2 linked regions of the Homo sapiens genome follow. The protein of the gene in region 1 purifies or fractionates together with the protein of each later gene. This does not show direct contact. Each region holds a gene or a part of one and is shown in the gene's direction. Other genes may lie near its edges. The genes, in order: TAF5L and MPPED1.

Region 1 (3,815 bases):
ACATTTGGTGATTTACTTTTGTGTCTGTTTTCCTCATTAGACTATATGCTCCATGAGGGCGGGGACCATATCAATATATCTTAGGACAATATCTATCCTGGCATGTAGTCAGCACTTAACATAAATACAGGCTGAACGAATGAAGGAGACAGGCTCAAAGAAGCCAGATAATTTGCTTCTTTTTCTTTTTTTTGAGACGGTATTGTTCTGTTGCCCAGGCAGGAGTGCAGTGGCATGATCACGGCTCACTGCAGCCTTGACCTTCTGAGATCAAGTGATCCTCCCATCTCGGCCTCCTGAGTAGCTGGGACCACAAGCATGTGCCACAACACCTGGCTAATTTTTTTAAATTTTTTTGTAGAGACAGGGTCTCACTGTGTTGCCCAGGCTGGTTTCAAACTCCAGGCCTCAAGCAGTCCTCCCATCTTGGCCTCCCAAAGTGCTGAGATTGTAGGCACAAGCCACCACACCCAGCCAAGACATTTGTTTCTAAACCAGCTTCCCCACCACTAGTATGGTGAAAATAAATCTGTCATGGAGAGATTAATATCATATTTTTTTAACTGAGTAAAATAACTTTCTAAAAACTGAGTTAAATTTTTCTGCAAGTTGCTTAAAGCCTCAGAAACCAATGCCAATGATAAAAAATATCTCTAAGTTCTTACCTCTCAATGAAAGAAACCCTTATTATAAATTCGGTTTTTCTTTTTTTATCCTTAGTGGAAATTGATCACTGCACTGAAATATTTAAGATTTATATGATATGCAGAATTAATGGAACTTCCTTTTTTTCAAACATAATAGAGTCATTTTACTAAAGCCTTAATTTTCATGATTTTTCGTTTTTGTAACTATTAAACAGACTATTCTCTACTTATGAATTCTGTCACCCAACAACCATGAAACTGATAAGATAACCCCACTAGAGGGTTTTATTTTGTAACCCTTATTTCCTGTAATATTTTGACCATTTTCTCCAACTGTAGACTATAGTAAATATAGATTCTTTGCTTTAAAATACCATTATGGGGGCCAGGTAAAACTAGGATAATTCTATGCGTGTGTAAGGCCAGGTGTATTATTTTGGTTTATATATTGATTACTGTATACTCGTCGTTTACCATTAAAAATTATTACCACAAGGATTGTTTGGCCAGAACTTTACATTTCAAAAGATTATAGTCTATCAACCATTTCCTTTAAGTTCTTACTTTATTTCTGAACTGAGAAAGTTGTCTGTTATTTTGTCTGTAATTTGATTCTTTAATCCTTTGGTTTAAAGGATCATTATTTTAAAGGGGTTAATATATATTGATCACTTTGGACTGCTGCTCCTGGAATATTTTTCTCTACCCTCAGGTCTCTGAAGAGCAGTTAACCAAATCAAATGAATAGTTATTTCCTGATCACCAAGATAAAGTGTAAGATATACTCATTAATCTATTTTAGAAGCAGTCCTAGCATAAAAACACTATAGGTAAAAGTTTTTACATAAAATTTGAATATCACAGAAGCACTTTCACAGACCAGCATGAGATCAATTGCTGAATCATATAGGAATTGCATTCAGAATGAAAGGAGAAAGTGATTTGGTTGGCGGTAGTCAGAGAAGGCTTTACTGAGCAGGAGGTAGGCTTTAAGTCAGCACTTGAAGGATGGATTGAGTTTCAGTAGACTGGAAGAGGAGGAGGAAGAGGAGTAATTTGGGTAAGAAATAACATGAGCAAAAAGGCAGGCTTGACGACTGTACAGGAACAACTAAGGCTTTGTTGTGAATGGGGGTTTCAGGCTGGAGATCAATGAATATTAGTCTGAAAGCAGTTTGTAAAATTATTTGTAAGAGGAATGGCAGGGAGACTGACTGTGAATTAAAGTGCTTGGCAATCTTGAGAAATGAGGTGAGAAAGGACCAGAATTTGACAGCATTGTGGAACTGGAAGGCAGGAGCTTTATTTCATAGTTAAATTACCAAGGTGGAATCTCCAAGGCTCAGGAGTAAAGGAGGAAGAAGAGGTGACGATGGCTCAGGCTTTAAGACTGGAGTGGAGATGAAGATTTATTGAAAATAAATAAGTCAGAAGGGTTTATGTTTGTTAAATTGTCATGACAGTGGCATCCTACTGCATAGCTTGCAGTGGGAAATTTGAGGCTAGGATTTAGGAGAAAGATAAAGACTTGTAATAAAGAACATGTAGCATCAGCTACATGGAGATGCAAATTAAAGTCTTAAGAAGTGATAAAATCTCAAAGGAAGATACTAGGGAAAGATATAAGAGTATCTATGTCTATATCCACCTGAATGTATTTTTCCTCCACAGGTTGTCTGTAGATGAGAGATTCTGTGAGCTCACCTATTGCCGTAGGTCCTATTCTTCAGGAGGTGTAGTGGGAAGAACACAGCCTTTGGAGTCAAGCAACCTCTGGATTTGAACCAGGGCCAGCTGTGACTCTTAAACATGATCATGGATGCAAAGTACCTGGCTCCTAAGAGGCACACACCCAGTGTTAATTCTTTAAAGTGAAATGAGCATTTGAGGATTGACAGGAGGAAGAGGAACCAAAAAGGGAGTGACGACAGGACCAAGTAGTGTGGGCTTTCAGAATAAAGGACAGAGGAGTGCTAGTCAATAGAGCCAAACCTTGAAGAAAGGTAGAGGAGAATGAGGACCGACAGGATTAGTTTTGTTTAATTTAGTATCCTTTTTACTACTAATTTCCATGAACTCATGAAAAACTCCATTGTTCTCTCATTTACCGCCAGTAGAGTTGGGCACCAGGTAGGCATTCATTACATTTCAGTGGGTAGATAGAAGGAAGAAAAAGTGTACTTTCAGAGGATATGTTTGTTACTTTTGCAGTTAGAAAAAAATATATTTTAAGTGAGTACACTTTCAGTAAAATACAGAGTATGTTAGATTGCAAGGGAATAATTTAAAATGGGAGTTAGAATTCTGAATCTCACCTTCTTCCAAATTGATCAGTTTTTTTGTTTTATACCCAGCATACTGTTCTCTTCAGACAAGAGAGAGCAATTAAGCAATTTTGAACCTATGAGCTGAAGCAACAGTGAATTTCAGTAAGTTTTAAAGTAGTACATCACTATTTCTTGATAGCTAGGTTTTTTTCTAAACTTACTCAATTGAAATGCCTCTCATTTTAGAAAAGGAGCCTGAAATTTTGTTTCTAAGGAATTGAAAACAATCCTTCATCCCAATAAAAAACAAAGGGAAAAGAAAAACCAAAATCTAGTCACAGTTCTCGAAAGAAACAGCCAAGAGCCAACAGGATGGATATGTAGAGGTTTACTTTAAGGAATTGTTCCATGCAATTGTGGAGGCTTGGCACATTCAAAATCAGGGCGGGCCAGCAGGCTGGAGACCCAGGAAAGAGTTAGTGTTGCAGTTCAAATCCAAAGGCTCTCTGCTGGCAGAATTCCTTCTACTAGGGGAAGATAAGTCTTTTTCTATTAAAGCCTAAACTGATTGATTGATTGATTGGATGAGGCCCACACTTTATGGAAGGTAATCTGCTTTACTCAAAGTCTACTGACTTAAATGTGTTAATCTCATCTAAAAAAAAAAATACCTTCACAGAAACATTTAAAATAATGTTTGACTGAATATCTGTGTGCCGTGGGCCCCCCCACAGTTTGACATGTAAAAGTAACCTCACAAGTCCACTCCTTATTAACTTGGCACCTGTATGCATCTCCTTATTCCATACTTAATCTCCAAATAAAGAGAATAACAAGTTCATACTTCCACCTAACCTAATAAAATTATCCTGTGTACAACCAAAAAACACACTAACCTTTT
Region 2 (3,815 bases), on another chromosome or scaffold:
AAGCTCTCTCTGGGCCTCAGTTTCGCCAGGTTTACCTGGGGATAGTAACACTTAAGTGTCTGTGAAGGTTATGCACAGCTGGTGAATTGCCAAGTCCAGGTGGACACCCACAGGCATTCTTGTGACTTTGGACTCAGAGGGATGTGGTGCTGGACAGTTTCTGTGTTCATAAGTGGATGTCCCTTTGCCTCCAAGCCATGGAGCAGACAGTGTTTGAGGGTGTCACCCCAGCAGGTGGTGGCTCCTGCCCTGCTCCCTTGCATTATGTATGGGAGCTGGGCCTTGTGCCCCATCCACCCTTTTCTGGGAGGGAAAAAGCCTCAGTCATCAGCTGCTGAGGTGAGAAGAAGAGGGGAGAGCTGACAGCTTCTGCGCTCCGCCCAATCCCCAGTAGTCGGGAGCTGCAGAAATAAATGAAACTGTACAGTTGGAGTAATTTGCTAATTTGCTTCAGTAACACCCCCAGTCAAAGACATGACATAAATACATGAGCACTGGCTCTGCACCCCCAGCTTGGGCTGCAGGATGGATGGGTGATGTGAAGTGGAAATGTGGTGAATCAGAGCCCGAAGGCAGCGATGGTGGCCACCCCCAACCCGAGCTGGGGGCTCTGGCTGCCTCCCTGCTGCAGTGTGTTTGGGGAGGGGCTCGATGAGGGGTCTGCTGGCCTTGGAGGAGTCTGAGGTGCCCGTCTAGAGGGGTGGGGTCAGCTGGACCAGCGTCCCCCTCCACAGCCGTGGGGCCTGGGTGGGTTTCCCAGCCTTTGAGCCTCATTCTGCTCAGCTGCAAAGAGGAGATAATAAAACCAAGTACCTTGGGGGTGCTCTAGGGAAATGAGATCTCAGCTCTCCACCAGCGGTCCAGAAGTGGCCATCTTTCCTGCTGTGTCCTCCCGGACCCACTACCAGCTGCTCAGGCCCACGCAGCCCTCTTCCCTCCTCTCCGCAGCCTGAGCCTCACTGGAGAGGGCTTCTCTGTACCATGCCTGGTCGCACTGTGGGGCTGTGGGAGGCTTCATTCGCCAGACTCCTGCTGGGGCCTGCTAGGGACAGAGCTGGGGGAAGCAAACACGCCTGCATCCATGTTCTTGGAGCTCTCCCATGAGCACAGCAAGCAGAGTTCCCAGCGTCCATCAGGGTGGGCTCTGATGTACAAGAGGAGGGTCAGGGAGGTGGAAGGGGCTTGTAGAATCTCATCCCAGCAGCCTGACTGGAAGAACCTCGGGCCAGGGCCAGGCTGTTCCCTTCATGTCCCCAGGGACAGAAACCCAAATGCCTGTTAAGAGTGGGCGGTACCTTCAAATGAATGAAGTGGACTGGGTGTGAGACGGTAGGGACAGGTGGGGATTGGGGCCAGCTGGACGCATTCATCCTGTCCAAGGGGACACAGACACTCAGCACTTCCTGACTGGACCAGTTAAATTGTATTTATTTCTTTATTTTTAGAAAACAGAAGTAATGAAATGTTATTAGGAATCTCTCAAATTTTTGATGTTGGCAACAAATTCAAGTTTTAAAAAAAAGTTGTGCCAAACAAAATATGTCTGTGGATGGGTCTGGCCTGCCTGCTTCTAGTTTGCAAACTCTGGCCCAGGGAAGCTCTTTGGTTTTTTTGAACATCAAAATTTTGTACATTTCCATTGATTATCTTCTATAATATCAGAACAGTCCTGCAAGGTCGCTGTTACTTTTCTCATTTTACAGGTAAGGAAACTGAGGCACAGGGAAGCTAAGTCGTACAGCGGGTTGGTGGCAGAGTGGGTCTGGGATCCAGGCTGCTGGAGCTGAGATTCTGTGGCCTGCTAAGTACCAGTGGCCCCCATGTACCAGTGGTCCCCCGCCCCAGAGTTGATAAATCCCGAAGAAGAAAGAGCAGTGCTTTCTTTCTCAAACCTGTGAAGCAGTCTGAGGTGGTTGGTGAGTCAGCTATGAGTAGATTGGGATTTTCTGCCTGTTCTGAAGAAAACTTCTGTCTCGCCTTGGGGTTCCCTTTCTTACCGCCCTGGCCCACCCTCCCTGGCCAGGCTGGGACCTGGCCATTTGCCGTGGCCATAGGGCACGTGGTTAGACAGACGGCACAGGTCTCATCTAGCTGGGGGTAGAGAAGAAGCTTATAACGGGGCACTGGACCCTTCTATTTCCTTGCTATTAGGATATAATAATGGCTGTAGTTATAGGACATGTACTGCTGTAAACCTCACTCTACCCTTCCCTGGAGCTCACGTAAGGGCTGGGGAGGCGAGCTCTTCCTAGAGTGCTTCCTGAGAGCTGAGTGTGATGGCACATCTTCCGAGTCTCAGCCCATATTGCAAGCATCCGTTTCCAATAAGAAAAACAATCCTTAGTATTTGGAGCAGAGGCATTTCTGGAATTTGGTTCCCCATGGAATGCTCACACAGCGGAAGAGGTAGAGTTTTTGGTCATGGTGGAAAAGGCTCTGCTGTTCCTGGGCTGCTGTGTTGTCCCAGGGGACAGACCACGGTGCCCGTGCTGCTGGGCATTGCCCCGGGAGGGTGAGGAGTGAAGGGGGTGTCAGGGGCTCATTGGAGCCTGATGGCCAGACAAGTGTTCTGGCACCTTGCCCTGTGTGTGCTTTAGCAGATGAAGGTCATGGTCTTCCAGGGATAGAGGGGATGCCTCGCGAGGTGTCGGTCTTTGTTAGCCACAGTTACTGCTTTGTGAACTGGTTATGGAATGTCACCATTTTCCTGTCTGGGTCCCCATCCACCCCGAGGCCCCTGTGCTGTGCTGGCGTCTTTGCTACTTGCCTGACCCTCCAGGTCACTCTCGGCCCAGGAGGGGCCAGGAGAAAGGCTTGGGTCTCCAAGTGCACTTTCAACATTTCATTTTTTATCCAAATCAGGGCTTACAGGTACCATCTTGACTCTCCAGGCCCATGAGTGCCCAGCAGCTGAGGCTGGTGGGGAGTGGGGAGTCAGGGGCCCAAGCCTGGGGTCAGGCTGGCTCTCAGATGGAGTAGGGGGCAGGGGCGAGTGGCGTTTACTGAGACCGAACAGCTGTGGTGGTCTTGCGCCTGCATAGAGCCAGCCTGGTGGGTGAGGCCTGCCGGGCAGCTGCCGAGAAACCAGCCCCCAGCCAGTCTCTCTTGGGTGACAGTGCACACTCCTGCCTAGGGCATCCAGAAAACTGGACCCCAGAGAGAGAAAGATGTGTACCTTGGAAGAACTACCCAAAAGTTCGCACACAGCAAAGCTGGAATGACACTATTGTAATTCAGTGGCTGTATACATAGACATTTTTGTTTTGATTCCATCTAGATTTTGTTTTGGCTTTGAATTTCCATGGCAGTAGGGGTGGGTACTATAATGTTTCCTGAGTGTGGGGTCTCCAAACATTTGAACTGGGCTCTGCAAAGACCTTGCAATTCCTTTTGGAAAGTGGAGGATAAAGAGTCCAAGATACCCAGGGGGTGGGGGCCTGGGACCGTGAGGCCAGTGACAGCTAGGGCTGGGGATGCAGCGTGGGGGTCTTCTTCCAGTAGAAAACTAGTCCAGACAGAAGAAACTGAGGCAGAGAAGTCCCAGGATGAGGCCAGGCACTCTGCAGCTCAGCAGCCTGGGAGGAACCTGTCCAGCCTCTTCCCGATGATCTCAGGGGGCCGATGGCCAGTGGAGGCCTGGACAGGCAGGACTGTGGGGACAGTGATCAGGCTGCTGCCTCCTTTGATCTGATGAAGACACCTGTTGGGGGCCTGGCAGCAGGTACCCCTGTCAGCGATTCCAGCAGCTTCCTCCTGCCCGCCCCTCTCTCAGCCATGCTGTGGCTTCTGGACAAGCTGACAGCTGTGTGCTGTGT

Evidence for each region.
Region 2: the proteins of TAF5L (region 1) and MPPED1 purify together in Homo sapiens (co-immunoprecipitation; one large-scale study listed by IntAct). This does not show direct contact.

The regions. Positions count from the first base shown.
Region 1 is NC_000001.11:229,605,380-229,609,194, reverse strand, and holds part of TAF5L (TAF5-like RNA polymerase II p300/CBP-associated factor-associated factor 65 kDa subunit 5L), read left to right. Parts: intron 1-1,359; exon of another isoform or gene 1,360-1,387; coding exon of another isoform or gene 1,388-1,421; intron 1,422-2,318; exon of another isoform or gene 2,319-2,777; intron 2,778-3,001; exon of another isoform or gene 3,002-3,076; intron 3,077-3,815. UniProt on the Homo sapiens protein: Functions as a component of the PCAF complex. The PCAF complex is capable of efficiently acetylating histones in a nucleosomal context. The PCAF complex could be considered as the human version of the yeast SAGA complex.
Region 2 is NC_000022.11:43,470,730-43,474,544, forward strand, and holds part of MPPED1 (metallophosphoesterase domain-containing protein 1 precursor), read left to right. Parts: intron 1-3,815. UniProt on the Homo sapiens protein: May have metallophosphoesterase activity (in vitro).